Homo sapiens: one gene and its partner. The protein of the gene in region 1 interacts with the protein of each later gene in a pairwise test. Each region holds a gene or a part of one and is shown on either strand. Other genes may lie near its edges.

Region 1 (16,902 bases):
CCACTGCACTCCAGCCTGGGTGACAGAGTGAGACCCTGTCTCAAAAATAAAATCAAGGTGGAATGCTATCTAGTTCAAATTTGAATAGTTTTTAAAAAATTCTGTCTCTGGCTGGGCATGGTGGCTCATGTCTGTAATCTCAGCACTTTGAGAGGACGAGGCTGCAGGATTGCTTGAGTCCAGGAGTTTGTGACCAGCCTGGACAACATAGCAAGTCCCCAGCTCTACAAAAAAAATAAATAAGTAAATAAATTCTGTCTTTGCTTTTATCTTAGTGGTTCAAGTACTCTGAAAATAAAATGACTTCATTTGAAGTCTCAAAAAGCTTTGTAAAATTTCCCTTATATATAGATTACTGGAAGCAATCTCTCACTTTCCTGTTCTTACATATTACTTTACTTTGAATGTATTTCATGGCACTTATGATTTTGTAGCATATATGTATTATTTTGTACCCATAGCCTATCTTTCCTGCTAGACTGTCAGAAGGAACTTAAAGACAACTGCACAATTCTAAAGAATTGGACTTTGCATCCCCATAGTTCATGGTACAATGTTTTCACTTTTTTTTTGAGATGGAGTCTCACTCTGTCACCAGGCTAGAGTACAGTGGCGTGATTTTGGCTCACTGCAACCTCCACCTCCTGGGTTCAAGCAATTCTCCTGCCTCGGCCTCCTGAGTAGCTGGGACGACAGGCATGCACTACCACGCCCAGCTAATTTTTGTATTTTTAGTAGAGATGGGGTTTCACCATGTTGGTCAGGATGATCTTGATCTCTTGACCTCGTGATCCACCCACCTCTCCCTCCCAAAGTGCTGGGATTGCAGGCGTGAGCCACCGTGCCCGGCCAGTGTTTTTACTCTTAAAGCCACACTCAGTGAATACGTATTGAAAGAATGAATTCATGTTGACATGAACATATTTGTCATGCTCTTATGTTTAGTATGTTTAATTGAGACTACTTCTGCATTTTCAGAATATTCAGGTTCCCAGGGAAGCATGGTACTGGTTGAGGCTTGAAGAGGAGACTGAAGAAGATGAAGAAGAAAAAGAACAGGATGAAGATGAATATAAGAGTGAAGATTTAAGCGTATGCTTTGCACCATTTCCTTCATAGGGTGTCTCAGCCTTGGCAACATTAGCACTTTGAGTTGTGGTAATCCGTTGTTGTGGAGAGCTGTCCTGTGCATTGCAAGATGTTTAGCAGCATCTCTGGCCCCTGCCCACCAGATACCAGTTGCACTTTTGCTTATGACAACCAAAACCCTCTCCAGACATTGCTAAATGTCCCCGAGGGGAAAAATAACCCCTGGTTGAGAGGTACTGCATTGCAGGATTACTTTACTAACCCCAAATCAAAACTTACATATAATTTTTCCCTTTAGCTTCCATTTGTCCTCTCATCTCAGCTTCAGTTTGGATGATGAATTAGCAACAAATGTAAATTATTTTAATTTATACCTTATTTCCTGCAAAACTTCTACAAGTCATTCTAATGTGTACTTTTTTCTCCTACTTATAAACAACAAAAAAACACAATCAAAAGAAAATGGAGGCCGGGCATGGTGGCTCACACCTGTAATCCAAACACTTTGGGAGACCAAAACTGGTGGATCACTTGAGGTCAGGAGTTTAAGACCAGCCTGGCCAACATGGTAGTGTATTTTAGTCTCTACTAAAAATACAAAAATTAGCCAGGTGTGGGGCACCCAATAATCCTAGCTACTCAGGAGGCTGAGGTAGGAGGATCACGTGAGCCCGGGAGGCAGAGGTTGCGGTGAGCCAAGATCACGCCACTGCACTCCAGCCTAGGTGATAGACCGAGACCCTGTCTCACAAAAAAAAAAAAAAAAGGAAATGGAGATTATTCAAGAAAGGAAAACACACTCGTATGCTTACTTGAGTATAATAATTTTGTGGAAAACATTCACAATTTGAAAAACCTATATTCCACTTAATTGGGAGACCATTGATGAGAACTTTTATGGCAAAAGGAGGCCATATTCACCTTCACCTTATCTGGGGGAGGTAAATGCCTTGAAAGTAGAAAAAGCCTTTAAAGGATGCCAATTTTAATAAGGCCACCCAAAAACTATTTTCTCAATGTTAACAAGCAGTCTCCATTGTGTCTGGCAGACTTGTGGAAATCTCAGGGTGGCTAATGAACTGTAACACATTCGAATATATCAGTTCTGTCCTTGACATTTCTAATAACTATTCCAGAGTATAGCAGAATATTTACAGCCTTGAGCTAATTCGGCACGATCTAAGAGCCAGAAAACCAAGGTTCTGTTCAATGTAAAGTATTAATAATGTGCTTGTATCCTATAGGTACTGGAAAAATTACAAATATTGACTAGTTATTTAAGAGAAGAACATCTATATTGTATTTGGTGTGGAACAGCCTATGAAGGTAAGAAAATTACTTTATGCTTTTTAAAAATAGATGAATGCTCTCCAATTTTTAGTTAAAGTCATTTCCCACTGACAATGGAAATTTCTTATTCCATTCAAATGGCAGTATGGGACCAATTTCTTAAATAGTGGATATAGAAATAATTGAGGCTTTATTAAAATTGCATTTAACTTTTCAGAAACTGAATGTGTGGAAGTGAATTTTTCAGTGTTTTGTTTCAAAAGAAACAATTTTAGAATAACCTGAGAATGATGAATGTTTTGTGCTTTATTTTTAAAGATTCTTTCTTTGGCTACAGATATTTGAAAGAATTTATATTAAATTTTAGAGCTAATTTTTATATACTTAGATAGAATATTGCCCCTAAACCGTAAAAATCAGATATGTTGAAATCCATTCCTTTTTTTTTCCATTGTAAGGATAGAAATGGTTTACACTTACCAGGTGTCTTACAGAGCCAAGTGTTTCTCCTTCTAACACCTTTGCCCAAGCTACCTTTGCTAACTTGTATTTAAGAACTTTGTACTTGAGAGTGAAGCATTTTTGGTTATTGTTGTTTTTATCTTTTCTGGTTTAGCAGAATAAGTAGAAAACATCAGATCAAAAAATGCATGTTATGTTGAAATAATTTTCTAGTTTACTGTAGAAGTTGTATTAATCTTTCATTTCCCTCACATAACTTACAGATAAAGAAGACCTATCTTCAAATTGTCCAGGACCAACTTCTGCAGATCATGACTAAGATTATTCCCAATAAAGTGGAAACTTGAAAAATGTTATTACTTCCTAGGGATAGACAATTTAGCAGTTGGAAATCTCAAATTTTTTATGCCAGTAAAGAAAGGGGGACTTTATATAATGTTTTGTTCTTTTTGTACTTTAGAATATGAATGTTCATTGACTTGAAAAAAATAATGCAATGGCATTTCAGAACACAAGTATCACAGAGATGGACAGTTACAATTTATTGCTATATTGTGATACGTGAGGGGTTTAAGGACACCAACAGGTAACTTCTTATTCCCCTCTTCACTTTGGAACAAATTGAGAAATAAGAAATGGGAGTCAGAGGAAGAGAAAAATATCCACTTTATCAGTGAATAAACTGATACAGAGAAGAAGGTTGACTTTTTCTCCAGTCAGAGACTGTAATATTTCTCCCTGATTGGAGAGAACAGCGGGTCTCTGCCTTGTTGGGGCAGAGCCCATCTTTGCATTCTGAGACCAGTTAGCTTTCAAGGTCAGGGAAACCACCAGGGGCTGGACCACACATGCTCAGTTCCTTCTTGTATCACCCATGGGATAAGACAGTTCTCTCTTGGGAAGGAATGAATGAGGGTTCAGAGAGCTTTTTCCTACACTTCTTGCTTTGAAGGAGCAAGGAGAAGTTCCCTTCCCTCCATCCAAGCATGAAGAGGAGGGGAAAAGTATTCCCCTCAATAAGGCTGATGTCAGAGGCAATGTTCGACCAGTACTACTAAATTCTAATCCATTTAACTGTGATAATTTCTGGTAAAATCATGAGTTTTCATGACAATGTCTATATCCATTATATGTGATCTGTTGGAAGTTTTGGCTAGAGAAACTTAATTGTGAGGAAATTTAAATATTGTGTGATGCAAGTACTTACTGAATTTGGAAACCCCTTGATAGCATTCCCAGCAAGTGATAGTTCAACCTTTGCTTTTATTCTTCCAGCCACAGAGAACTCACTGCTTTAAAACCATTCCATTACTGGGTAGCTCTGAATTGTTTTCATTGTTTTCTCTTAAACTGAAATCTGCTTCCCTGTAATATTAATGAATACAGCTAAGGACATACCGTGTGGCATACTATGAGAGAGCTCCATCCAGGGTGAGGCATCAAAATCATGAACCTTTTTAAAAGTTCATATGCTCAGGTGTCTCTCCTAGTGATTGATTTTGATTTGTCTTGGCTAAGGTGGTTCCTGGATATCTATATATTTATTTTGAAGTCCCAAGAATGAGTGATAAGCACCTGAGGATAAGAACTAGTACTGAGGTTAAGGATGGAGCACCACCATTCTTTGGATAGAGTTGTGATCACCTGTGTGATTTTATAGCTCACCTGTTAGTTAGATTGAGCAAGAGAACAACCCCTTTTATTAGAAACAGCATACATAAGAAGATTGTAAAAATTAACCTACACTTGCTAGGGTAAGATAATCAGTAGTACAATTTGTATTAATCTCTGACCTAATATGACCTAATTCACTTTTCAAGTTTAACTTGGGGAGCTTTACAAAATAGTAATAAAAGGGTCCCATCCCAAGAGATTCTGATGCCATTAGTCACTGTGACTTGGGCATCACTGCCCTTGATTCTAAAATGCAGCCTACCTTGAGCCACTAATCTAGTTAACTTCTGGGCCTCAGTTCTTCATCCAGAAAACTAATCATTATTTTTATGAATGTAAATATGTGTATATATATAATATTTATATGTTTGGATGCTATTGTTTAATATTTACTTTTTTGTTTTTAAAAAAATTATAAAATTGGCTGAGCGCAGTGGTTCACTCCTGTAATCCCAGCACTTTAGGACGCCAAGGCAGGCAGATCACTTGAAGCCAGGAGTTCAAGACCAACCTGGCCAACATGGTGAAACCCCATCTCTACTAAAAATACAAAAATTAGCTGGGCGTGGTGGCATTCGCCTGTAATCCCAGCTACTCAGAAGGCGGAGGCATGAGAATTGCTTGAACCTGGGAGGCAGATATTGCAGTGAGCTGAGATCATGCTGCTGCACTCCAGCCTGGGTGACAGAGCAAGACCCTGTCTCAAAAAAAAAAATTATATATATATATGTATGTATATATATATATATATAGAGAGAGAGAGAGAGAGAGAGCTATTAATAAAACAGAGGAGTACATTTTACCCTTGCAATTCCAGTCAATACTGTGGTGTCATTTCAGCCAACATACCAACATTCAGTCAAATCCCAAAGCCAAATGGATAATTTCAGATGGAATGGAGTTAGACAGGAACTGGCTTCCCTTTCTCCTGTTACTATGAGGACAACCCACACCTGCTCAGTGGCCTAAAATATTTTAAATATGTTCATGACAATTATGCTGAGAATGCCAGGATAACACTGATGGAACCCATGACTTCACCAGGATTGTGGTCTACATTTACAGGCCTAGTACTAGAACTAGACCGGCTTAGAGAGTGGGAGATATCCCTCTGTTGTCCATCGAAAGATAAAAATACAGGCTTTCAGCCGGGTGCAGTGGTGCATGCCTTTGGTCCCAGCTACTCAGGGGGCTGAGATGGGGAATCCTTTGAGCCCAGAAGTTTGAAACCAGCCTGGGCAACATAGTGAGAGACCTCCATCTTAAGGGAATAAAAAAAAAATCAGACTTTCAATATGAGTAACAAGTTATTTTTAGGCCTTTTATGACTTTATAAATAGGCAATAATGAACACCAAGGGAAGCAAAACACTGAAAAGAATTTTAAAATTTGTTGTAGAACATTAATACGAAATTTGAAACTGCAAAACAATGTAAAATTTAATGTCATGTTGTCATTTACTTTTGTGTATATTGTGCCATGTTTATTTTCAAAGTCCTATCTAGAAATTCTAAAATGTCTAATTTTCTTAATTAAAAATCCAGAATTCTGTAGTTTCTGAAATTCAAAATAAATACTTTAACATACCAAATTGGTTTTTCTAATAAACATTTATTTCAAGTGTTATTTGTTAAACATTTAATTGTTGAGATTTGAAAATGAACATTATTATTTATTAGACACATTTTATAGGCTCATTCAAAATTCTTAACTTTTGAGTTCCTGCTTTCTTCACAGCAGTGCACTCACTACTTTCTGGTATACAAGAAGAACAGCTTGTCCCCACTCTTACAGTGTAATGAAATTAGCAGTATAATGAAGAAAAGTGCTGTGTAGGAATGACTGAGCTCTAAGACAAACTGGTAAGAACAATTAGGTACTAAACAATGGGAGTACTAGGGAGAAGATTCATTTTGAGTGGGAGATGTTGGAACACTTTGGAAATAACACTGAATTTGGGTTCTGAAAGATGGATATAATTTTGATATGCAAAGTTATGAGGAAAGAGTTACTGTATAATCCAGCCATTCTCCTAGGAATATACATCCAAGAGAAATGAAAACAAGTCCACATAAGATTTGTACACAAAAGTTCATAGTAGCATTATTCATGGTAGCCAAAAAGTACAAACAACCCAAATGTCCATCAGCTGATGAATGGATACATAAAATGCGACATATCCATATGATAGAATATTATTTGGCAATAAAAAGGAATGAGATGCTGATTCATGCCACAGCTGGGATGCACCTTGAAAATATACTCAGTGAAAAAGACCACATGTATGATTCCATTTATATGAAATGTCTAGCATGGGCAAATCTATAGAGATGGAGAGTAGATTAGTGGTTACCTAGAGTTGTGAGAAAACAGAGTGAATACTAACGGGCATAGGGTTTCTTTTGGGGGTGAGAAAAATGATAGTTGCACAACTCTGAATATAGTAAACACTACTGAATTGTATACTGTATAGGTGAATTGTATGGCATGTGAATTATATCTCAATAAAGCAGTTATTAAAAAAAAAATGAAGAGAATTTCAGATAGAAACCACAGGAGAGAGCCACTGAGTGCAAAAGCCTGTTGAGGTAAAACTGCAGACCTGCATGGGTGGGGCTTACTCGGGAAACACTGAATATGGGATGCATCATGGAAGCCTCCAGAGGAGCATGGCCTTGCCCAGTGAACTGCAGCCCAGTGAATCTCATTTTAGACTTCTGGCCTCCAGAACAGAAAGAGAATAAATGTGTGTTGTTTTAAACCACCAAGTTTGTGGTAATTTGTTAGTTATAGCAGCCATAAGAAATTAATACAGGTCCAAATCAAATTAACCCCATAAGAGCCACACAGATTTGAGAAGCATTTTATTTGCCTCACAGTTTTGCCTATTATACAGTTTCTAGTTATTTAGAATTTAAGCCAATAATGTCACCATATAACTATCAACTGTGATTCCCTTCATCTATGACTATTTTTAAGAAATGTAAGATTTGGATAAGTCATAATCACAGATCAGAAACTGCAGACATTGAGGCCTGGATGGCCGTTTAGAGAGAAAGAGTTAACATTTCAGTGGAGACCTTTCCTATCTTGTATTTCCTACAGTCTCCTCCTATCTTCAGTGCAGTGTTCTGGCAGCACCTCAAGCTCACTGTCACCAAATGGGATTCAACGTCTTTCCTCCCAAACATGCTCTACCTCACCATGTCGATAGATGTACAGTCGCCCCACTACTGGCTTAAATTCTAAATTACTGAAAACCATGTAACAGGTAAAAGTGTGAGACAAAGTACCCCTCAAATACATGTGGCTCTTGGGGTTCATCTGACTGAGACTTGTATTTACTTGAATGGCATCAGAATCCTGCTACTAACCTTCTAACAAACTTGGAGGTAATCTTTGATGCTTACCTTTCCTTAATCCCCACATCCAATTAGTTGCCAACTCCTCTTGGTTCTGTCCTCTTATTGTTCAGGCCCTCTTAGTCTTTCCACTTCTGACCTTTCAAATATAGTTTCCTCCTGCTCTATTCTAAACATGCTAGTTTCAAAGTATTGGTTGGGCCATACCTTGCTTTAAAGAAATACTCATTTGTCAACTGTGGAGGTTGCTAGGGCACTAACTCACTCTAAAATTTGATAAATATTTATCGCATCTTTCCCATTCAGATTTAGAGAAAGTTCCTTAAAGAAGAATCATAGATGATAAATGCAAGAGGTTTGATAGAACCAGAAAATCACTATTTTACAACCCCTGAAATGAAATAATGGATCCAGGCAACAATTATCAATAGCTGCTAAAACCATCAGGTGAAAGATTGATGAGAAACTTTGTAGTAGTTGGTACCACCAGAACTCATTGATCAATATTAAAATCACTGAAAGTGGAACAATCAGACATCATGTTCCTCCTGAAATGATGTAAGAGAAAGTGTATAGCATCACCTATGGAGTATTCTTGGGGGAAAATAAATGAACCAGGATCAAATCCAGCTTCTAGGTCTAACTGGACACTCTGGGGATACTCTCAGTCAAATCCTGAGTGGAGGAAATTCCACAGGACAAATAAAAGCCGAAAAGAACTAAAACGCAGGGGTAAATTTTACAGAGTAAAGGAGACACATCAACCAAATGCAATGTTGGATCTAGATTTCAACAACCAAGAAAACTGTATTTTTGAGATAGAAACAATACAGACTATTATATGATAATTAAGGAAATCTTGTCAATTTTTTGAGTGTGACAATGATGCTGTGGTTTTGTTAAAAAGATTTATCTGCTAGAGATACATTTTAAAGTACTTACAAGTGCAATGATGTAACACCTGAGATTTACTTTAAAATATTCCAGTAGGGCCGGATATTGTAATCCCAGCAGTTTGGAAGACCAAGGCAGGAGAATCTCTCAAGGCCAGGAGTTTGAGACCAGCCTGGGAAACACAGCAAGACCATATTTCTACAAAAAATTTAAAAATTAGTTGGGTGTGTTGGTGTATGCATGTAGTCCCAGCTATTCAAGCGGCTGAGGCAGGAGGATCACTTGAGCCTAGGAGTTCGAGGTTACAAGGAGCTGTGATCGTACCACTGTACTCTGGCCTGGGTGACAGAGTGAGATCCTGTCTCTTAAAAAAAAAATTACAATTAAATACTTCACCAAAAGAAACAAACAAAAAGTAAGGGGTTAGATGTATTAAGAACGGTAAAGTATTGATATTTGTTGCAGCTGGGTGATGGGTAGAGTTTCATTATTCTATTTTTGTGTATGTTTGAACATAAAGAAATGTATGAATAATATTGAAATTATTCAATATTCCATAATGAAAAGTTAACATGCCAAGAATCTCAAATTATGGTGAACACTCAGTGGGGACTGCATATTGTGAGTTATGTCTCTAGTTAGTTAACAGATAGTAGAGACCTGGAAAAGCTTGTATGTAGCCTTTTAAACATTTCTTCTCAGATACATACATGCATATATATGTATTATATAAAATACATATTCATACACATATGTGCACACACACAGGATGGCTTCATGGACATGCAACCTGTGCAGTTGCACAAGACTGTGCTTAGAAGCACCCCACACCTAATTTTTGAACGAGGGCCGTACAGTTTCATTTTGCCCTTAGTCCCACAAATTATGTAGCTGGCCATACACACACATGCACACATACCACATACCCACATGTATATATGCATATATTGTGTACATATGTATATACATTGAATATATTTAACATAAGTGTTAAGTATGCATGTGAATTTTATGTATGTATTTATGTTAAACATGTACGTATTTAAATAACATGTGGTTTAGTGATAAAAATTCCCTAAAAGGTATGTTTCTAGGGAGGCAATTATATTAAAATGGCTCTCAAAATTTCTGTGTGTGTGTGTGTGTGTGTGCATTTTAATTAGCAAATAAGGTCCCAGGCTCTTGCCCCTGTCCTCCTCTGAGTAAGAGGATACTTTTTACTTTAATTTTGAGGCCAAGAAAATATATACTCACAAATCAAAAGAAGTTGCTAAGAAATGCTATATTCATTTAATAAGAGTAGGAATATATATATCTTTTTTTTTCTTTTTTTTTTTTGAGACTGAGTTTTGCTCTTGTCACCCAGGCTGGAGTGCAATGGCGTGATCTCAGCTCACTGCAACCTCCACCTCCTGGGTTCAAGCGATTCTCCTGCCACGGACTCCCGAGTAGCTGGGATTACAGGCGCCTACCACCACACCCAGCTAATTTTTGTATTTTTAGTAGAGATGGGGTTTCACCATGTTGGCCAGGCTGGTCTCGAACCCCTGACCTCAGGTGATCCACCCGTCTCGGCCTCCCAGAGTGCTGGGATTATAGGCGTGAGCCACCATGCCCAGCCAGAGTAGGAATATTAAAATGAGGTCAGTAAAGATAAGGCTACATTCTCACTAACTGGCCACATCATTTAGTGTTTCTTTTGAATATAGCCTCATTAATCAAAACCAGATATTGTTTTTTTAAAAAAAGATTTCTCTCTACGCAGAACATTTCCAAATCTACAGAAAAGTTCAAAGAATAATACAACAAACACCTGTGTACTGTCATCTAGATTTACCAATTGTACAATGGCTAATATTTTGCCACATGTGTGCCCTCTTTCTCTCTCCATGTTGATTTTTGCTGAACATTGAAAGTTGCAGACATCATGACACACTTGGCCTCTAAATGTTTGTGCATGCATTGCCTAAAAAAACATTTTTGGCTGGGTGCAGTGACTCATGCCTGTAATCTCAACACTTTGGGAGGCCAAGGCAAGTGAATCACCTGAGGTCAGGAGTTCAAAACCAGCTGGGTCAACATGGTGAAATTCCGTCTCTACTAAAAATAGAAAAAATTAACCTGGAGTGGTGGCAGATACCTGTAATCCCAGCTACTCAGGAAGCAGAGGCAGGAGAATCACTTGAACCTGGGAGGCAGAGGTTGCAGTGAGCCGAGATCGTGCCACTGCACTCCAGCCTGGGCGACACAGTGAGACTCTGTCTCAAAACAAACAAACAAACAAAAACAAAATAAAACAAAACAAAAAGACATTTTCTACATATACTATTATCACACCTGAGAAAACAGTTATTTGGCATTGTTATCTAATATGCAGTCTATATTCAAATGTTCTCAATTGTCCCGAAGATATCTTTATAGCTGTTTGCTGGGTTGTTGCTTTCTTTTATTATTATTATTATTTAGATATGATCTCACTCTGTCACCCAGGCTGGAATGCAGTAACATGATCATGGCTCACTGCGGCCTTGACCTCCTAGGCTCAAGTGATCCTCCCACCTCACCCCCCCAAGTAGCTGGGACCACAGATGCACACTACCATGCCCAGCTAATTTTCTGATTTTTTGTAGAGATGAGAACTCACTGTGTTGCCCAGGCTAGTCTCAAAATCCTATGCTCAAGCCATCCTCCCCTTTTGACCTCCCAAAAATGCTGGGATAACAGGCATTAGCTACTGCGTCCAGCTTTTGTCTTTTTAAATATCCAGAATACAATAAAGATTCAAACATTGCATTTGGTCATTGTATCTTACAAGTCTCTCCCCTTTTTTTTTTTTTCATGACACTGACTTTTTGAGAAGCCCAAGTCAATCATCTTATAGAATGACTACATTCAGGATTTGTCTAATAATTTCCTCATGATTAAATTCCAGTTTAACACTTTGTGCAAGAAAACTAAATAGGTAAAATTCTTAAGTCACATCAGGAGGGGCATAATGTTAGGGTGTTCCACCTTGGGTGATGCTAAATTGAATCACTTGGTTATTGTGGTGACCATTGTAAAGGTACATTTTCCCCTGTATAATTGATACCTCTTCTGTAGGATTATATTTAAATCCTTGTAGAAGATCCTATTCCACAATAGCTTTTCATCCAATAGTTTTAGCATCTATTGATGAACGTTACGTGAAAAATCTATGAACTGCTCTTTATGAACACTTTTTAAAGCCTTTATAAAACTATTTTCTCTTACTGTATTTTCACTTTTTGCTTAACCTAAATTTGGCCCTTTTTAAAAATCCTAAAATCATATGGCAGTTTTAGAATGGTAGCTGGTTGCTGCTATAGTTTGCATGTTTGTCCCCCAAAATCTCATGTTGAAATTTGATCCCAGTGTTGGAGGTGGGGCCTGATGGGAGGTGTTTGGGTCATGGGGGAAGACCCCTCATGAATACATTAATGCCGTCCCTGGGGGTGGGGTGTGCTGGGGAGGAGAAGCAAGGAGTTCTCAATCTATTAGTTCCCTCAAGAGCCGGTTATTTAAAAAGAGCCTGGCACCTTCTCCCTCGCTCTCTTGCTTCCTCTCTTGCCATATGATCTCTGCACATCCGGCTCCCCTTCACCTTCCACCATGAGTGGAAGCAGCCGGGGAAGAAGCAGATGCTGGTGCCATGTTTCTTGTACAGCCTGCAGAACTGTAAGTCATATAAATCTCTTTTCCTTATAAATTATCCAGCTTCAAGTATCCATTTAAACCAATAAGAAACAAACTAAAACAATTGCCCTAAGTTGAAATTCACCCTCAGGGTCGTCTTCTAAGATGCAATTTAAATTATCTTCTCTACAGCAATTCAGGACAACAAACTAGCATACCCCATGTTCCTCAAATATATCTTCTCCAGAGCTCATGCCAGACCCCTTGTCCAGACTTCCTGGGTGGTCTCCTCTCTACTCATCTAACACCCTGGCATATAGTTGGAAGGCCCACTGGGCTGTCACTTCTAGCCCTGTGCTCAGCAGAAAGCCATCTTACCCTTCCCGATGGACTATTTTCTGTTTTTAGCTACTGCCTTACAGCACGGTTGTCTTTAAAGTGGTTGTTACAATAGATACAAAATGTATTTAAGATAAAAGGTATAACTATGCAGCAAACACTAGTGGACCTACCATCCAGCTTAAGGAAGTTACCATTACCTTTGAAAGTCCATTTCCCCAATCACATCATTCCCCTCCCTCAAAGATAACCACCATCCAGAATTTAATATTTCTCATTCCCTTCCTTCCCATTATTGTCTCATCACATTTGTTGGGTTTTTTATACAAAATGATTTAGTTTTGCATGCTCTGGAACTTTATATAAATGGAATTATTCTGCATATATTTTCTGAAAACCTGCTTTGTTCGCTTAACATTATGTTTCTGAGAGTTGTATTGTGTTACGTTATTACATTTAGCTGTACTTCAATTGTTTTCAATACTATATAGTACTCCTGTGTGTGAATATAATTTTTTTAATCCATTCTTCTTTTGATGTGCATTATGGTTGTTCCCTGTTCTTTTGGCTATTATAAACAGGGTTTTATGGACATTCTTGTAAGCACGTATGTAGGAATAGAATTGATAGCTATGTGGGTATACATGGATTCAACTTTACTAGATAATGCCAAATTGTTTTCCGAAGTGGTTGTACATCACTTTTTTTTTTTTTTTTAATGAGTACCATATTTCTCCAGCTGGCTTGTAAGCTATGTGAGGCAGAGAACGATCTTACATTTTTTTGGCCTAAAAGCGGTAGAAATTTAATAAATAGATATGAATTGATTGATTCATTAATAGTATAAAAAGAAAATTTGGGGGTGGTTTTTCCATCTTTAGAACAAAGAGATGAGGCTGGGCGCGGTGGCTCATCCCTGTAATCCCAGCACTTTGGGAGGCCGAGGCAGGTGGATTACTTGAGGTCAGGAGTTTGAGACCAGCCTGGCCAACATGGTGAAACCCTGTCTTTATTAAAAACACAAAAATTAGTTGGGTGGGTGGCACATGCCTGTAATCCAGCTACTCAGGAGGCTGAGGCAGGAGAATCACTTGAACCCAAGAGGCAGAAGTTGCAGTGAGCCAAGACTGTGTCATTGCACTCCAGCCTGGGCAACAGAGCGAGACTCTGTCTTTAAAAAAAAAAAAAGAATAAAGAGATGAGCCAGGAAAAAGTAAAATGTAAGAATGTTTTTGAAGCAAAAAGAAGAAAACCTTTCTGTTTCTGCAGAAAGATTAGTAAAAATAGTAAAAAATTAAAGGAAACATTAAAATAAAAGGTAAATATCTATTGATATTCCCTAGCAGATTTTAGATAATTTAAGGAAAACTGCATATCAGAAGCAGGATACTTTTTCAGAAGGGCTCTAACATGTGTGTCGTTCATTTTTCTCTGGGCTTTTCTTCCACACAGTCAAGGTCCTTAGTATTTCAGATGTGTTAGGTCGATCCTCAGGTTTCTTTGAGAGTAATTTCTGTAGAAGAGTTTTCTGCAATGACAGTGAGAGTCAATAGTAAGAAATAAAACATTGAAATAAATAAAATTCTGATGATTTTCAAGTGCTTACTTCTTTTTTATCAAATATATCTGAGATGATGCCATCCCGTAGGTCTGTGAAAAACTGGAAAAAAAAATGATAGGTGTATATTAGGAAATTATTTACTTGGGAGGAAAGACAGAACTAAAGGCTGAGGAATACCTGAAATGTAGGATATTTCCAGATTTTTTGGGAAAGTCTCTTTAGCCAAGAAGCAAGCAGGATTCCCTCTCTCCTACACTACCCCCAATCTAATAACCATCCTTGCATTACGACATGAAGTGTTAAGTGCATCATCTTTACAATCTCCCTTCATGCATTTTGGAACCCTAAGTGATAGGTACTTCTAACTGTTTTACAGAGGATAAGGTTATTGACTCCAGGAAAGTTCCCTTTCCTGAGCTTAAGAGTAGGATATCCAGCTGGGTGCAGTGGCTCACACCTGTAATCCCAACACTCTGGGAGGCCGAGGCGGGTGGATTGCCAGAGGTCAGGAGTTCGAGACCAGCCTGACCAACATGGTGAAACCCCATCTCTACTAAATACAAAAAAATTAACCAGGCATGGTGGTGCACGCCTGTAGTCCCAGTTACTTGGGAGGCTGAGGCAGGAGAATTGCTTGAACCTGGGAGGCAGAAGTTACAGTGAGCCAAGATCGCGCCATTGCACTCCAGCCTGGGCAATAAAAGTGAAACTCTATCTCAAAAAAAAAAAAAAAAAGAGTAGGATATCCACTTGCCTACTGCCTTTAGTGACTCCCCACTGTCTAAGCAAGAAGGTCCACATTTTTTCCTCAAGTTAGCCCAACCTATCTTTCTAGCCTCACCAACCACTACTTCCTTGTAACTTATATACTCCAATACAACTTACACTGCCTGCTGTCCCCAAATACACTCTGTACATTCCCGCCTCCATGCTAGAATCAACTTTTCTGTTTTGGACTATTAGAAGCCAACAGATCCTTCAGAGCCCAGCTTAGATGTCTCCATGAAACCTAAGTCCCTACAGCTGGAAAGATCTCCCTCCCAGCTGCTTCCACAGACTTCATGCCTTCTCCTAAAATGCTTATGGCATTCTCTTATATTATCTTCCCTTTTAGAAAATAAGCTCCTTGAGAACAAGGCTTTATTCATTTATTTATTTAGAGATGGAATGTCACTCTGTCACCCAGGCTGGAGTGCAGTGGTGTGATCTTGGCTCACTGCAACCTCCGCCTCCCAGGTTCAAGCGATTCTCCTGCCTCAGCCCCCTGAGTAGTTGGGATTACAGGTGTGCACCACCACACCCAGCTAATTTTTGTATTTTTAGTAGAGATGAGATTTCACCACGTTGGCCAGGCTGGTCTCGAACACCTGACTTCAAGTGATCTGCCTGCCTTGGCCTCTCAAAGCTGGGATTACAGGGGTGAGCCACCGCGCCCAGCCAAGGCTTGTTTATTTTTGCAACCCTTACAGCACTTAGCACAGTGTCTTACACAAAGCAGTCAATCAATAAAATGTTACTGACTGACAAGTCTTACAAGTCTTATGAGATGTACTACCTTCCAGGGAAGATCAAAGTTTTTGGTCTTTAAGAAAGTGTTTGGTCTCTGCCAAACCTTGAAAGACAGAAAATTCATATTTCATTTGCAGTCAGATACTAATATGCTCAAGCCCATCCTCACGTGAGGGCAAGAACTGTCTGCAGCAGCACTCTGAAGGTGGTAGTCAGTAATTTTTCTTGTTTAATTCTTTCTTTGAGATAATTTTACCTTTGATGTTTCAAAAGCAGTGTCACATACATGAAGAAGTTCAGCAAGAATTAGCCCCAAAGCGTAGAGGTCCACTTCCTTTCCATAGTCTTGCGAAGAAATCTAAAGAGACCAAAATAGATTTACCTTTGTTATGCTCCTTACATAAATATCCAGCCTTCTAAAGCCCAAAAAAGTTATTTGACCAAAACATCTTACACCACAAAACAATGTCTATTTATTAGCAAAATCTGTGGAGTCTGACTGCCTAGGTTCAAATCTGTACCGCCGAATAGCTGAATCCTCTGTGTAAATTAACGATCAACATGGGAATAATCTCAGTTATAAAACAAGGATAACAACAGTATCAACCACAGAGTTTGATTGTGAGAGTGAGATGCAGCAGGTAAAGCAGTTAAAATAGCACCCAGTAGGCGGCTTGCATTGCAACTGTTCATAGCGTATTTATTCACAATATTCCATAACTGGAAACAACTCAAAGGACCACAACAGAAGAATGGATAAACATGTTGTGGCATATTCATACAATGGACTACGACTCAGCAATAAAAAGGAATTCTCTGCTGGTATGAGCAACAAAGTTTTTCCAGAAGATATTATTTTGAATGAAGAAATTAAATACAAAGAGTACCTACTGTATGATTCCATTCATATGAAGGTCAAAAACGGGAAGAACTAAGCTATGGTGATAGAACTCAGAGTGCTGGTTTCTTCTGATCAGTGGGGAGGAGGCACTGACTGGAAAGGAGCTTGAAGGAGCAAAATGTTCTATATCTTTATAGTCTTATAAGTTACAGAGGTGTATGCATTTG
Region 2 (16,714 bases), on another chromosome or scaffold:
AGGGTACGGTTTCTACGGCAGCAAACAGTTCCGAGTGACTGGAAAAAAGACAGTTGTCTTCATTCATCAGGTTGCCATAACAAAACACTGCAGGCTGGTTGGCTTATAAGCAAAAGGAAGGTTCACCTTACGGTTCTGGAGGCTGGGAAGTCCATGATCCAGGCTCTGGCAGATCTGGTGTTTGGTGAGGGCCTGTTCCCTGGTCGATGGTGCCTTCTCACTGTGTCCTTACATGGTGAAGAGGCAAGGCAGCTCTCTGGGGTCCCTTTCCTAAGGACAGCAATCCCACTCCTGAGGGCTCCACCCTCATAACTTAACCACACCTCAAAGGCCCCATCGCCTGATACGTCATGTTGAGGGTTAGGATTTCAGCGTATGGATTTTGGGGCACACAAACATTCAGACCATAGAAATGGGAGAAGAAGAGTAAGACAGAGAGAAAAGTAGGCAGAACTACTCATTAAGAGTGAGGTGGAAGGTGGAGAGGGCAGGGAGACCTTATGAAGATCACACATCTGTGAGGAAGGTTTGCACACTCTCACTGAAGCCCCGGTAGGAGGCTCAGCACCCATTTCTCTAGATAGCACCTTCCTTCCTCTGAGGACAGATTCTGACTGGAGCCCTGGTAGGGGGCTCAGCACCCATCCCTCTAGATGGCACCTGCCTTACTCTGAGGACAGACTCTCACTGAAGCCCCGGTAGGAGGCTCAGCACCCATTTCTCTAGATAGCACCTTCCTTCCTCTGAGGACAGACTCTGATTGGAGCCCTGGCAGGGGGCTCAGCACCCATTTCTCTAGATAGCACCTTCCTTCCTCTGAGGACAGACTCTCACTGAAGCCCCGGTAGGAGGCTCAGCACCCATTTCTCTAGATAGCACCTTCCTTCCTCTGAGGACAGACTCTGATTGGAGCCCTGGCAGGGGGCTCAGCACCCATCCCTCTAGATGGCACCTGCCTTACTCTGAGGACAGACTCTCACTGAAGCCCCGGTAGGAGGCTCAGCAACCATTTCTCTAGATAGCACCTTCCTTCCTCTGAGGACAGACTCTGATTGGAGCCCTGGCAGGGGGCTCAGCACCCATTTCTCTAGATAGCACCTTCCTTCCTCTGAGGACAGACTCTCACTGAAGCCCCGGTAGGAGGCTCAGCACCCATTTCTCTAGATAGCACCTTCCTTCCTCAGGACAGACTCTGACTGGAACCCTGGTAGGGGGCTCAGCACCCATCCCTCTAGATGGCACCTGCCTTACTCTGAGGACAGACTCTGACGGGAGCCCTGGTAGGGGGCTCAGCACCCATCCCTCTAGATGGCACCTGCCTTACTCTGAGGACAGACTCTGACTGGAGCCCTGGTAGGGGGCTCAGCACCCATCTTTCTAGATGGCAGCTGCCTTACTCTGAGGGCAGGAGCTTGCTTTGTATGTTCCAGTCCCTTCTGAGAACCAGAAGCCTGAGCATCTATTAGAAATGCAGGATTGTGGACCCAATCTTAGACCTAGAGAGCTAGACTTTGCATTTGAATGAGAGCTACAGGTGATTCAAAGGTGACTGCATGTGTGGGTGCAGTGGCTCTTGCCTGTAATCCTAGGTTTTGGGAGGCCAAGATGGGGGGATTGCTTGAAGCCAGGAATTCAAGTCCTACCTGAGCAGCAAAGTGAGAGCACCTCTCTACAGAAAAACAAAAGCAAAAATGTGACTGCATGTTGGAGCCACCTGGCTTTTTTTAAATAAAAAAGATCCATATAGCTGGACACAGTGACTCGTGCCTGTAACCTCAGCTACTCGGGAGGCTGAGGCAAGAGGATTGCTTGAGCCCAGGAGTTTGAGGCTGCAGTGAGCTATGATCATGGCACTGCATTCCAGCTTGGGTTTCATCTGAAAAAAAATTTAAAAAATTCATCTAGTTCCACCTCAGAGCTTCTGATTTTATTTCCATGGATGTGGCCTGGGCTTGCGATTTTCTTTTTCTTTTTTTTTTTTTTGAGATGAAGTCTTGCTCTGTTGCCCAGGCTGGAGTGCTGTGGCATGATCTTGGCTCACTGCAACTTCCACCTCCCAGGTTCAAGTGATTCTCCTGCCTCAGCCTCCCTAATAGCTGGGATGACAGGCTCGTGCCACCACACCCAATTAATTTTTGTATTTTTAGTAGAGAGAGGGTTTCACCATGTTGGCCAGGCTGATCTTGAACTCCTGACCTCAGGTGATCTGCCCGCCTCGGCCTCCCAAAGTGCTGGGATTACAGGTGTGAGCCACCATGCCCAGCCTGGCCTGAGGATTTTTGTGAGCACTCCTGATGCTGTTGTGTAGCCAGGAGTGAGGACTGCCCTCTGATCACCCAGCACAGAACGTTCAGGGCCATGTTGGGACAGTGGACTGGTAAGGGCGAGAGGAGGACACTGGGGAGCAGGCTGTAGGGTGCCACAGTCCGCCACAGTCACAGGCTCATGCTCTCCGTCCGAGAGGAGGCAGAACTGCTTTTACCAAGGCTCATCCAGCCCTCTTCATTTCTCTGGGAACAATTTTTGGTTTCGTGACCCATTTCTTAATCCCCGGAAGGCATTTCTCTGAACTGGTGCCAGGCACCCCGGCCCCCAGCTCCAGTTAGTTATTATTCGAGGCTGATTTCTTTTCTGTCTGTCTTCCTTCTAATTCCTAGATTGGTGAACAGCCACCTCACTTCCAGTTTTTGCCGGGGCCTCTTTTCAGTTCTGAGCACCAGCCAGAGTCTAACTGAATTGGACCTCAGTGACAATTCTCTGGGGGACCCAGGGATGAGAGTGTTGTGTGAAACGCTCCAGCATCCTGGCTGTAACATTCGGAGATTGTGGTGAGTCCCCGTGCATGTGATCTGTGTGAGTGCAAGTTCATATGAGAGAGAGAGAGAGAAACAGACTGGAGAAAGATCTTCAGGACCAGGTTGCTGGTGTGGTTTCTTTCTTTTCTTTTTCTTTTTTTCTTTTTTTGAGGCAGAGTTTTGCTCTTATTGCCCAGGCTGGAGTGCAATGCCGTGACCTCGGCTCACTGCAATCTCTGCCTCCTGGGTTCAAGTGATTCTCCTGCCTCAGCCTCCTGAGTAGCTGGGATTACAGGCACCCACCACCATACCCAGCTAATTTTTTGTATTTTTAGTAGAGATGGGGTTTCATCATGTTGTCCAGGCTAGTCTCGAAGTCCTGACCTCAGGTGATCCGCCCGCCTCGGCCTCCCAAAATGCTGGGATTACAGGCATGAGCCACCGCACCCGGCCGGTGGTGTGGTTTCTGCTGTAACAAAGTGCCACAGACTGAATGGCTTCAACAACAAAAATTCATTTTCTTGCAGTTCTGAGGCCGAAAGTCTAAGATCAAGGTGTCAGCAGGGTTGGTTTCTTCTGAGGCCGCCCTCCTTGGTTTGTAGATGCCCCCTTCTCCCTGTGTACTGATGCCATCTTGCCTTGGGGGGAAGAGTGGCCTAGTCTCCTCTTCTTACAGGGACAGCAGTCCTGATGGATTAGGCACAGTCAGGCATGACTACACAAGACCTAATGTTAATCTAGTCACTCCTTTAAAGACCCCATTTCCCAAAACAGCCACATTATGAGGTCTTGAGGATTAGGGCTTCAACATGTAAATTTTTGGGGGGGCACAGTTCAGCCCAGAACAAGTGAGAAGGTAGAATGGGTTGGAGGCCAGCTGGGGAAGTTTTGTGTGGGGAAGAATGAATGAGGAACTAAAAAAAAAGTCATTTCTTGAAACAACCATGATGCTCGATATATTCCATTTCCTCATGGGCCATGTTCATAGATGAGAGTTGGAGAATTTGCCATTTACAACAATGGCAACCTCACCTAAAAACTATGAAAATACTTTTTTTTTTTTTCTTTGAGACAGGACCTCTCTCTGTCACCCAGGCTGGAGTGTGTGATCACAGCTTACTGCAGCCTCGACCTCCCAGGCTCAAGCAATCCTCCCACCTCAGCTCCCCCGAGTAGCTGGGACTACAGGCATGCACCACCATGCTGGCTAATTTTTGTATTTTTTTTGTAGAGATGTGGTCTCATCACGTTGCCCAGCCTGGTCAGAATGCTTTGTATGGGTTGAAATGTCACAGGGAATCTCCTGTGACTTTATTAATAATGTGCTTGCTCACACCTGTAGTCCCAGCTACTCGGGAGGCTGAGGCAGGAGAACTGTGTGTACCCGGGAGGCGGAGATGGCAGTGAGCCGAGATCGTGCCATTGCACTCCAGCCTGGGTGACAGAGCGAGATTCCATTTCAAAATAATAATAATAATAATAATAATAAAAAATGTGCTTGCTTTCTCCCACACCATGAATCAGATTCACACGCCCCACCGCGCTGGTGCCTGGGCCGCCTCACTAGCTCTGTTTCATTCCCTGCTCTGTGGACGCATGCAGGCGTCTGCATTTTTGAGGAGCTGCACAGCAAGTGTTAAAGTCCGCCACTCTAGGACATTTTGCTACCTCCCTCTCCGGCTCAACACACTCACCTTGTCACCAGTCTTATCAATTTTTCCTCCTACCCGAGCTGTTTTCCACTTTTCCTCGTCCTCACCCCACCAGCCCAGGTCCAGCAACTGTCACCACTTGCCTGGACACGCAGTGACCTCCTAGACCATCAGCTCCCCGGGGATGGGGTTTGCGTTTGTTTGTCTTGCTGTCATCTTTGCCACGCCTGGACAGACATCTTAGTACCCATCAGTGGTCAAAAGCACGCACTGAATGAATGTTGGCTCTTTGGTCTCCCTGTGTCTGCCTTTTTCCCTCACCCGACCATTCTCTGCACAAAAGTAAGATGGTCCTTTAGAAAATTCTGATTCGATTGTGCTGTTCGGTGGCTTAAATGCTTTCTGTCTGCTCTGCTCTTTATTTTTTACTTTATGTATTTATTTTTGTAGATGTAGGGGGCGCAAGAGCAGCTTTGTTTCATGGATATGTTACTGCACAGTGGTAGTGTCTGGGCTTTTACTGTAACTACCCCTTTTTTTTTGAGATGGACTCTCGCCGTGTTGCCCAGGCTGGAGTACAGTGGAGTGATCTCGGCTCACTGCAACATCCACCTCCTGGGTTCAAGCAATTCTTCGAGTAGTTGGGATTACAGGCATGGGCCACCACGCCCAGCTGATTTTTGTATTTTTAGTAGGGACAAGGTTTCACCGTATTGGCTAGGCTGGTCTCAAACTCCTGACCTCGTGATCCACCCGCCTCGGCCTCCCAAAGTGCTGGGATTACAGGCGTGAGCCACCGTGCCCGGCCTTAGTGTAACTCTTACCCAAATAGTGAACATTGTACCCAATAAATAATTTTCCAGCCCTCACCTGGCTCCCACCCTCCCACCCTTCTGAGGCTCTAGTGTCTATCATTCCATGCTCTATGGATGTTACCCTTTGTTTAGCTCCCACTTGTAAGTGAGAACGTGTGGTATTTGACTCTGTTTCTGAGTTGTTTCACTTAAGGTAATGGCCTCCAGTTCCATCTGTGTGGCTTCAAAGATGTGACTTCATTCTTTTCTATGGCTGAGCAGTATTCCATTATGTATATAGATCACACTCTTCATCTTTGCTCTTTTGGTAAATTTCAAATCGTAGTGCCATGGAGACTGGTTGTTTGGGACATTTAACCTTATTTCTCCAACTTCATGCCCAAATTCTCTCCCCACTGCCATTGCCCCTGTATGATTCTGGAGAGGCAGACACAAACAGGGAAGGGTAGGGGACAGTGAGATGCTTCGCAGAGAAGTAGAGATCCATTTGTCCATTTGCTTGAAGTTGGTGTAAGGATAGGGACAGAAAGGAAGGTGGTCTAACAGGCTCCAGGACCTATGAACTATTGCCCTGGAAAGAAGCTAGAATGTTGTTCTTGCCCCCATGACAGGGATAAAGTATAGTTTTTGTTGCTGGTGGTGGTGGTGACGGTGGTAGTGATGTGCGTGTGTGTTTGTGTGCATGTGTGTGACGGGGAAACTAATCAAGAATCAGAGCTGCAGCGGGATGTGGAATCCCAGCACTTTGAGAGGCTGAGGTGGGCAGATCACCTGAGCCCAGGAGTTCAAAACCAGCCTGAGCAAGCTGGTGAGACCTTGTCTTTAGAAGATAATAATAATAATAAAAATAAAATATAAATAAAATAAAATGGCTAAGCATGGTAGCACATGCCTGTATTTGCAGCCACTTGGGAGGCTGAGGCAGGTGGATCCCTTGAGCCCAGGAGTTCGAGGTGGCAGTGAGCTATGATCTCGCCAGTGCACTCCAGCCTGTGCAACAAAGTGAGACCCTGTCTTTAAAAAAAGAAAAGAAAAGAAAAGAAAAAGAATCAGAGCTGCTTTTCCTTTCAATATAGATGGAGGGCTGGGATGAAATCGTCAAACACAATGGGGTGACAATGTTGGTGAAGACAAGAAATAGCTGAGTGCAGCACTGGCGAGGGCAGTGCCGACTGCGGGCACGTCAATGGTTAGGAACACGAGGGAAGGAGGTGGGTGCACAGGCCCACACCGCCCGCTTCACTTACAAACCAGGAGCGCACCATTCACATGTCTGGGGGGTGATCTCAATGCACCCGGCACTGTTTACGGCCGGGAGTTCACTGACAGGTGATCCCTCTGCTGTGACTGGGGAGACTGGGGGCTGACCTCCCAATGTGCCTTGTGCTGTATTCCGGAGCTCTCTGGTCAGGTGTATTCTGATGCTTTCTCTATTCCAGAGCTCTCTGGTCAGGTGTGTCCTGATGCTTTCTCTATTCCAGAGCTCTCTGGTCAGGTGTGTCCTGATGCTTTCTCTATTCCGGAGCTCTCTGGTCAGGTGTGTCCTGATGCTTTCTCTATTCCGGAGCTCTCTGGTCAGGTGTGTCCTGATGCATTCTCTATTCCAGAGCTCTCTGGTCAGGTGTGTCCTGATGCTTTCTCTATTCCAGAGCTCTCTTGTCAGGTGTGTCCTGATGCTTTCTCTATTCTGGAGCTCTCTGGTCAGATGTGTTCTGATGCTTTCTCTATTCCGGAGCTCTCTGGTCAGGTGTGTTCTGATGCTTTCTGTATTCCGGAGCTCTCTGATCAGATGTGTTCTGATGCTTTCTCTATTCCGGAGCTTCCTGATCAGGTGTGTCCTGATGCTTCCTCTGTTCTGGAGCTCTCTGGTCAGGTGTGTTCTGATGCTTTCTGCCTCTGTTCTTGGCATGAAGGTTGGGGCGCTGTGGCCTCTCGCATGAGTGCTGCTTCGACATCTCCTTGGTCCTCAGCAGCAACCAGAAGCTGGTGGAGCTGGACCTGAGTGACAACGCCCTCGGTGACTTCGGAATCAGACTTCTGTGTGTGGGACTGAAGCACCTGTTGTGCAATCTGAAGAAGCTCTGGTGAGTCGAGCCCGTTCCCCTAAGGAAGTTCTGCCAGCGAGGCGTGCTGCGCACTCTGGCTTCAGTGAGGCCCGGTGGGCTGGGGTTTGAGTGAGAATGGCCTTGGCGGCTCGGGTGACTGCGTGTGCTTGTCTTGGGGTGTCTAGCATTGCGGTCAGTGAGTGTTTGTCGTGGGGAAAGCCACACACTCAACCCTGACAAGGAGCATAAATAATAACAAAAAGAAGATGTCTGCCTTTAGGGTGCCTACTGCCTAGCTGACAAAAAGAAAAAATCAGTGTAATGCATTGCTTTAGAGGAGTTTTAGAACTTCATGACAAGCCCTGGGTCCTCATATTGTATAAGAAAAATGGTGCTAAAGCAATGCAGACCCTCGATGTTGTATGCAGCCCTTCCCTGAGTGCTTCTGGGAGACTTGCATTTTGAAGGAGAGAAAAAACCACTTAAAAATGGAAGGGCCATTTCTCACCCATTAGGATGGCTATTATCAAACAAAAGCAAGAAAACTAGAAAACAACAAGTATTGGTGTGGGTGCGGAGAAATGGAAGCCATTGTGTGTTGCTGGTGGGAATGTAAATGATGCAGCCACTATGGAAAACAGCACAGCAATTCCTAAAAAATAAATACAGAATTACTACTGGAGCCAGCATTTCCACTGCTGGGTATATCTGCAAAAGAGTTCAAAGCAGGAACTCAGCCAGGAGCGGTGGCTCACACCTGTAATCCCAGCATTTTGGGAGGCTGAGGCAGGTGGATCACTGGAGGTCGGGAGTTCGAGACTAGCCTGGCCATCATAGTAAAACCTTGTCTCTACTAAAAATACAAAAATTAGCCAGGCATGGTGGTGCATGCCTGTAATCCCAGTTACTCGGGGTGGAGGCAAGAGAATCTTTTGAACCTGGGAGGCGGGGGTTGCAGTGAGTCAAGATCCCGTCACTGTACTCCCGCCTGGGTGACAGAGGAAGCATTAAAAAAAACAGAAGGCAGGAACTCAAACATGTTATTTGTACATCTATGTCCATAGCAACACTATTAGAAATAGCCAAAAGGTGGAAATAACCAAACGTCCTTCAACGGATGAAGGGTGTTGAAAAGTGCTATATATGTACATTCAGCTTTAAAAAGAATTCTAGTACACACTACAACATGGATGAGCCTCGGGGACATTATGCTAAGTAAGATAAGCTAGACTCGAAAGGGCAAATACTCTGATTGTCCTTATAGGAGGTGTCTAGAACAGACAGATTCATAGAGACAGGAAGAAACGTGGTTGCAGGCAATGGGAGGGCGGAGAGTGGGAAGACATTGTTTAATGGTTATGGAGTTTCAGTTCTGCAAGATGAAAGGAGTTCTGGAGATGGTGGTGGTGATGGTTGCACAACAATGTGAAGTGCTTAAGGCCATTAATTGTGCACTTAAAAATGGTTAAAATGGTAAATTTTATTTTACACGTATTTTACCACAATAAAGCTGAATGTAGGGAGCTGGGAAGATGTAGTATTGGTGGGAGCTTGGAGAATGCTTACTTGTTATTCCACCAAATGGAAAAGGAAATCAGAAGTGTACATAGAGCTTGTGTCCACTCCCTTTCCATGTGTAAACTGGAGTAGAGGCAGTGGCAGGTACGGGTGCTTCCTTGTCCATGGTGGAGCGTGGGTGAGAGACATGACTGACATTCTGCCATCTCTATGGAAGGTTGGTCAGCTGCTGCCTCACATCAGCATGTTGTCAGGATCTTGCATCAGTATTGAGCACCAGCCATTCCCTGACCAGACTCTATGTGGGGGAGAATGCCTTGGGAGACTCAGGAGTCGCAATTTTATGTGAAAAAGCCAAGAATCCACAGTGTAACCTGCAGAAACTGGGGTAAGTCTTCATGGGTGTCTTACCAGAAAAGTAACTTCTTTTCAGAGGTGAATTATTTGGAAAATGTGGATGGGGGTTACTTTGGTCAGGCAGAGCTGAAGGTAGAGTAAGGAGGTAAAAACATCAGAAATGCTTTGAAGGACTGGAGGCATATAATGTATACTGCTGCTAATAAGATAATTTATGCTAATTTATGATTATAGAACTAGAGTTTCTTAGTGTTGGAAGAAACCTTAGAGATGGTGCAGCCCAATTGCCTGTTGAGGGAAAAACTTGCTTCCAAGACACTCACATGAATAGTCACCCATTTTATGTGTGCATGCTTGCAAGCATGCAAGTTATCGCATAGTGCATGCAGCCTCTACACTAGGAAAGAGCTCTCACCCTGCAGCCTCTACACTAGGAGAGGACTCTTACACTGCAGCCTCTATATCCTCAACAGTGTCATGGCTCAGCACCTTCACCTATGTAGCCATGCTCTCCCAGGTACACAGGCTGGTTTGTTAGTGTCTGTCTTTGAAATGTGGTGCCCAGACCTGATGATGCATGGTGGATGTTTTACCTCCTGTTGCAGAGAACTATGGTTTCACTGGTGGAATCTCTGATTTCCTTGTTTTTTTTGGCAGTTACATAAGCCTTTTGATTCATGTTGGAATTCTGCAGTAAACAGTAGTAGGGAATACCCACTAATAATCATGCACTTTCCCTGTACCACTTTCCTGTATCACTTTCCCTGTATCACCTGCTCTTTCATGTTCTTACATGGATTTTCTCAGTTGGCTTCAGAAAGATGCTATAGGGTAGGGTATCTGTGTCTCCAATTTAAAGAGGAGAAAATAAAATTCAGGGAGCCTCATAACTTTGTCCAAGGACACTCAGAGAGAAGGTAGTGGAACTCAGTGTAGACAAACGTCTGTGACCTCCCAAGCCACTGCCTTAATTCCCAGTGCATTGCCTTAGGAGATGTTGCTAATGGGCTCTCTACAGGGCTTCTTCATCTGGCTCTCAGCTTAAGGGTGGGACCTCCAATTTAGCTTTGCTAAACCTCATCTTACCTGTCTTTTGACCCATTGACTAGGCAGTTTTGAATCTTCATTCTGACAATAATATCTACAAATACAATAAGCAAATTGGATAGGTCTTCATTCATTCACATTATTAATATATATACCAGCCAGATCAGCATTCAAGACAAAATTTGGCAGGAAAGGTCTTCCCAGAGGAGTAATCCACTAATCCATAATTAACAACCAACCTCTGTTCACAAAGCTCTGATACTTCCTTGGACCTCTCCCATCAGCCAATCCTCAGATGTGACCATATCTCTTTCTATGAAGTCTTCCTGCAGTGCCTTCATTTCCTCGCCTTAGGGTATTACCCTTCCTTAGCAAATCGCCTTAGAATATTACTCTTCCTTGGCAATTTGACTTCTGCTTCTCTAAGTTTGTTCAACAGACATGATTTTGTCCCTTCATTTTGCAGGCCCTCTGGGGGCTCTGTGGTGGGCACTGACAGCAGCAGTGAGTAAAACAGACCAAAATCCTGTTTTCACAACCGTTCTTTTAGGGAAGTGATAACAGATAATAGACATGCTAAACAATATACCCTGTGTATAAGAGCTATAAGAAAAACTGGAGTGACGGCGAGGGGTGCTTCTCTGCTCACGTTTGGCGAGTGCCTCTCCGAGCGGGTGACATTGGAGCAGGTGCTCAGTGAAGCGTGGGATGGGCTGTGAAGGAGCCGGAAGAGCCCTCCAGGCAAAGCAGATGGAACCGAAGAGGCCCAGGCGTAGGCACTCAGGTGACTCTCAGTGATCCTGGTTCCAAATTCCACATGACAAACAAGCCAATTACAAATGTGCCTGATGCATCTGTAATATGCTCTATGTAGTTACTATTGTCAATACCTAACCTGGTAGAGCTGCTGTAATAAAGTATCACAAACAGAGCGGCCTAAACAACAAGAGTTTATTGCCTCTCAGTTCAGGAGGCCAAAGTCTGAGACTGAGGCATCAGCAGGCTGGGTCCTTATAGGTCGTACAGGTCCTTCCCAGTCCTTACTTTAGTTGACATCTGCTGCCTTTAATTCATTTCACTCTTCCTCTTTGGAAGCCTTCTTCGCTCTTATTTTTAGGTCACTACTTAGTCTTTCCTGCTAATGTTATAGCTTCCCCCTCCCTGGATCCTGCATTGGCTTCTCTTCCTGTGGTCTGGGGATTTCACGACTGGTTTAGTTGTGTTTTTTTTTTTTTTTTTTTTTTTGAGTTGGAGTCTTACTCTGTCACCCAGGCTAAAATGCAGTGGCGCAATCTTGGCTCACTGCAACCTCTGCCTCCCGGGTTCCAACAATTCTTCTGCCTCAGCCTTCTGAGTAGCAGGGACTACAGGTGTGCACTGCCATGCCTGGCTAATTTTTGTATTTTTAGTAGATACGGGGTTTCACCATGTTTGCCAGGCTGGTCTCGAATTTCTGACCTCAGGTGATCTGCCTGCCTTGGCCTCCCAAAGTGTTGGGATTACAGGCGTGAGCCACACACCCGCCTGGTTTACCTTTTTTGTTGTTGTTGTTACTAAATATTTCTAAACTCCCTGAGAATTCTCATATACCTCTCAATTTCAACAACAGTAGGTCTCAAACCCAGATATCATTCACAAACTTTTTATTAGAAAAGTAACACATGCTTGGTGTAAACATATCATAGTACAGACAAAGTGGAAAGTGAAAGCTCCTTCTCAGCCCTCTTCTGAGAGAGCCATTTACAATAGTCTGATGAACAACCATCCAGACTTTTTTTAATACAATAGATTGTTATATAATCCATTCATCTGTCCATCCATCCATCCATCCATCATCCATCCCTCTATTTTCCATCCGTCAATCCATCCATCCATCCATCCATCCATCCATCCATCCATCCATCAATCCATCCAAGGGAGTATCAGAGCTTTGTGAACATATATTGGTTGCTAATTATGGACAAATGGATTTCCTGTATATGCTGATCTGGGTGGTATTTATATCAGTAATGTGAATGAAGACCTATGTGATTTTCATGTTGCATTTGTAATACATTGTTATGTAGTATTTTAAATGCCTAGTCTGTTAGAGCTACTGTAATAAAGTATCACAAACAGAGCAGCTTAAACAACAGAAATTTATTGTCCCTCAGTTCTGGAGGCCAGAAGTGTGAGATTAAGATGCTAGCAGGCTGGGTCCTTCTGAGGGCTGTGGGGAATCTGTTCATGCTTCTCTTTGGCTTCTGGTGGAATGTCATCTTGCTGACACATTTTGCCATTCCTTGACCTGTAGATGCCTCTGCCACACCATTGCCTTTATCTCTACGTGGTGTCTTCCCTGTGTCTGTGTGTGTCTTTCTCCATGTCCCAAGTTTCCCTGTGAAAGAACACAAGTCATGTTAGATTTGTAACGACCTGATCTTAACTAATTACATTTTCAGTAACCGTATCACCAAATAAGGTCACAATCTGAAGTACTGGGGCCTAGGACTTCCACATATAAAGTCTTAGAGGAAACAATTCAATCCATAACACCCTATCTATTGAAACTAGAACCATAATATAAATATTTTTCTGTGATATCCTTTTTTCATTTATCATGGATAAATTTCCATGCTGATTTGTGTAGATCTATCGATTGGGGCATAATATCCCATAGTGTGCTTTACCATAATTTATTTAATCAAATCATGCATTTTGGGATAACTGTTCTTTTCCACTATTACAAACAACTCTGCAAAAAGCACATTTGTATATATAGTTTTATGCATGTGTATTTGCTTTGAGATAGGTATCTATAAGTGGCATTAATCAGTCGAGACTTTTATGCATTTTATGTGTTAGGTACAGCCATACATGTGGCTGTGTGTTAGGTATAGCCTATGGGTTAGGCATAGCCTGTGTGTTAGGTATAGCCTATGGGTTAGGTATAGCCTACGTGTTAGGTATAGCCTATGTGTTAGGTATAGCCTATGTGTTAGGTATAGCTACATTTTTTTCTCTCGAACTTTGGGTCCTCATCTCTGGCTGCATATTGTGTACTGCCTGTCTCAATACTGCTCAAGGGTCACACATGCTGAGCATTTGCAACATTGGTTTAATTATCATACCCCACCTTCCACCCCCGTTCTCTGACCTGCTCCTGCCCTCTTCCTCCTGCCTCATTGAATAGTGGGGCTTTCCAGGAGGCTGCTGAGTGAGTAAACGGGGGACGGTCCTAAATGCTCTGCTTTCGGTTCCCTCTACCACTCATCACTACACCAGAGGGAACTTTTTAAGATGCAAATTTGAAAATATTGACCCTTTGTTCAAAAATCTTCAAAAGTTCTTCTCTGCAGTCAGAGTGACATCTTAGCTTGGCACACAAGGCTGTCCCTGATACTGCCCTCTCTCCTGCCATACCTTGCACTCCATTTTGAGTCATATTGGATGAGTTTTGTTTTGCTGTTTTAGAGATGGGGACTTGCTATGATGCTCAGGCTGAATTTGAATTCCTGGGTTCATCTACAGCCATACCACCCAGAGTGCCTGATCTCATCTGCACTCCTGGGCTCAAGCAATCCTCCCGTCTCAGCCGCCCAAGTAGCTGGGACTATAGGTGGACATCACTGTGCCCAGCTATGAATTAGTTTTGAAACATCTTGGTGGTTCTTTTAATCTTCCTTATTCTTGCTACTCTTTTCCTTTTGCCTGGAAGGTTACCCCCACTTTCCCACTTTCTACTATCCATCTAAGAAGCTCCTACTTATTTTTTAATTACTGTGATCCTCATTTTGTCCATTTAAAAGCAGGGATAAAACTAACATTCCCATCTTGAGGTTGTGATCATTCAATGAGATAACCCTGTTTAAAGTCGTCATCCATGTCAAGCACACAATAAATACTCAAAAAATGTTTGATCTTCTTCTTCAGATTCCTTCCTTCCTTCCTTCCTTCTTCCTCCTCCTCCTTTCTTTCTCTCTTTTTCTTTTTCTCTTTCTTTCTTTCTTTCTCTCTCTCTCTCTTTCTTTCTTTCTCTTTCTCCCTTCCCTTCCCCTCCCCCCCCCCTTTCCCTTTCCCCTTTCCTTTCCTTATTTTCCTTTCTTTTCTTTTCTTTTTTTAAGACAGGGTTTTGCTCTGTGGCTCAGACTGGAGTGCAGTGGTAGGATCATAGCTCACTGTAGCCTTGAACTCTCCTGGGCTCAAGCAATCTTCCTGCCTCAGCCTTCTGACTAGCTAGGACTACAGGTGTGTACTACCATGCCTGGGTAATGTTTAAAATGTTTAAAATTTTTTATGTAGAGACAGGGTCTTGCTATGTTGCCCAGGCTGGTCTCAAACTCCTGGCCTCAAGTGGTCCTCCCACCTTGGCCTCCCAAAGCACTGGGATTCAGTTTTCATTATGAGACAGTTTTGTGACATAGGCAGGTAGTTAATAAATAAAAATCCCCAACCAATTAACTTAATACAGTACATGGCAAGATATCCGTGCTTGGTAAATGTAGAGCTCAGTTAGGTGGATTGGTTGAAATCGAGATGTCAATCACATTCCTCTAATCCAAGGATTGGTTGGTGGGACATGGTTGTTTGATTCTTTAAACATTTTATTATGTGTTCAGTGTAACCGTTGCTTAATAGTTACCAGCATTTTCACAATTTGGATATGACGTTTTCTTAACAAAACTGCACCGTCTGTTGCAATTTCTACTACTACTGTGTAGTGCTCCCCAAACATCTGTTGAATAATCCATTCTACTCCTTTTTGGAAATAGTGGTAAAGCCTGCATAACTTTAATTACATAATTTAAAAAATATTTTCTCTTTTCCTCTTTGAAGACCATCCCCATTCTACTAGAATGTCCCTGGCCTTTGCCAGGAATGCTACTAATCCCTTCTGCATGTTAATTAACAACAACCCTCTGATAGAATTCTTACCGGGGATGAGAGCTTAGTAGAAGCCACTCAAAACTTGCTTTGTTTTTGTCTGTCTCTCTTGGGCTTCATTTGCCTATTAGTCTTACTTACTGTGTCTTTTCAGTTTGACTCTTCCTTAATTGGGAAGATAGAAACCAGTGGATGGATAATCACTTTTTCCTGCTGGTCATCTGTTCATGCTTTACTGTCTGAATACACTTTTTCTGTATTTCTATTTTTCCTGCCTCGTAGACACCAAAGAGCTTAAAAAACATGCCATTGCCAAGGACTCTGGCAGGAAGGAGGCAATCACCTGCGCTATTCCTGGCTTCATGGAATAGAAGCATCTGTGCTCCTAGGAATTACGCCACCAGTGATTTTAGAGCTCTTATGCTCTTCCTGGGTGATAGAATGGGCTTAATTTGACTCAAGAATAGTACATCAAAACTCTTAATTCCATCGAGATTGATGCATTTTTGGGGTTTTATGCTCTAAAAGGCCTTTTGCTGTGCAGAAGGAAGAGAGAGGTGGACAGAAAGGGCAGTGGGGAGAAGATGAGACTAAAAGGTGGAAAGTCCAGGTCTGGATCCCTCCCCACCACACACCTGCTCTGTGGCCTTGAGAGAAACATGTAATTTTTATAAGCCTTAGATTTCTAATATGTAAAATGTATGTAATAGTTTTAGCTGCACTCCTTCCTTGCCAGGTTGATATAATAATCAAATAAGACTGGTCTCTGGGTCAGGCACAGTGGCTCATGCCTGTAATCCCAGCACTTTGGGAGGCCAAGGTGGGTGGATTGTCTGAGCCCAGGAGTTTAAGACTGCAGTGAGCTGTGCACTTGGCCTGGGTGACTGAGCAAGAGCCTGGCTTTTTCTATTTATTTATTTATTTTTGAGACAGAGTCTCACTTTGTTGCCCAGGTTGAAGTGCAGTGGCAATCTCGGCTCACTGCAACCTCTGCCTCCCAGGTTCAAGCAATTCTCCTGCCTCAGCCTCCCAAGTAGCTGGGATTACAGGTGCCCACCACCACCCTAACTAATTTTTATATTTTTAGTAGAGATGGGCTTTCACCATGTTGGCCAGGCTGGTTTTGAACTCCTGACCTCGTGATCCACCCTCCCAAAGTGCTGGACCTCCCAAAGTGCTGGGATTACAGGCATAAGCCACTGCACCTGGCCTTATTTATTTATTTATTTAGGCAGGGTCTCACTCTGTCACCCAGGCTAGAGTGTGGCAGCGCAATCATGGCTCACTGCAGCCTCGACTTCCTGGACTCAAGCGATCCTCCCACCTCTCCAACGTGGTTGAGGGCTGCAGCGAGAAAGATGTGAAAGGGGCATTTGGGGGCGCAGGAAGGCGGGAGGTGGCAATTGCTAAGGGCCCCGCCGTGTTCCTGTCACAGCCCTAGCTACAGCTTAGAAGGTCACAATGGACGTTCACCTGTTGTCTTTGATGTTTAAATCAGCACCGACTTCCCATGAGGAGGATTTTTTTTTCCTGTCTCTCTTAAAAAAAAAAAAAAAGGCCCCTGCAGTGTGGGTGTCTGCAGTGTTACGGGGATTATTAGTTGAGGATAACCACTGGGATGT

Evidence for each region.
Region 2: the proteins of EIF2AK2 (region 1) and NLRP3 interact in binary tests that used the Homo sapiens proteins (3 or more experiments, as listed by UniProt).

The regions. Positions count from the first base shown.
Region 1 is NC_000002.12:37,093,104-37,110,005, forward strand, and holds the end of EIF2AK2 (interferon-induced, double-stranded RNA-activated protein kinase), read right to left. Parts: intron 16,193-16,902; coding exon 16,091-16,192; intron 14,425-16,090; coding exon 14,371-14,424; intron 14,293-14,370; coding exon 14,170-14,292; 3' UTR 6,107-14,169; downstream 1-6,106. Other genes in the region: GPATCH11 (G patch domain-containing protein 11), read left to right, coding at 979-1,092, 2,334-2,415, 3,105-3,160.
Region 2 is NC_000001.11:247,426,928-247,443,641, forward strand, and holds part of NLRP3 (NACHT, LRR and PYD domains-containing protein 3), read left to right. Parts: intron 1-2,657; coding exon 2,658-2,828; intron 2,829-7,175; coding exon 7,176-7,346; intron 7,347-9,042; coding exon 9,043-9,213; intron 9,214-12,353; exon of another isoform or gene 12,354-12,606; intron 12,607-16,714. UniProt on the Homo sapiens protein: Sensor component of the NLRP3 inflammasome, which mediates inflammasome activation in response to defects in membrane integrity, leading to secretion of inflammatory cytokines IL1B and IL18 and pyroptosis.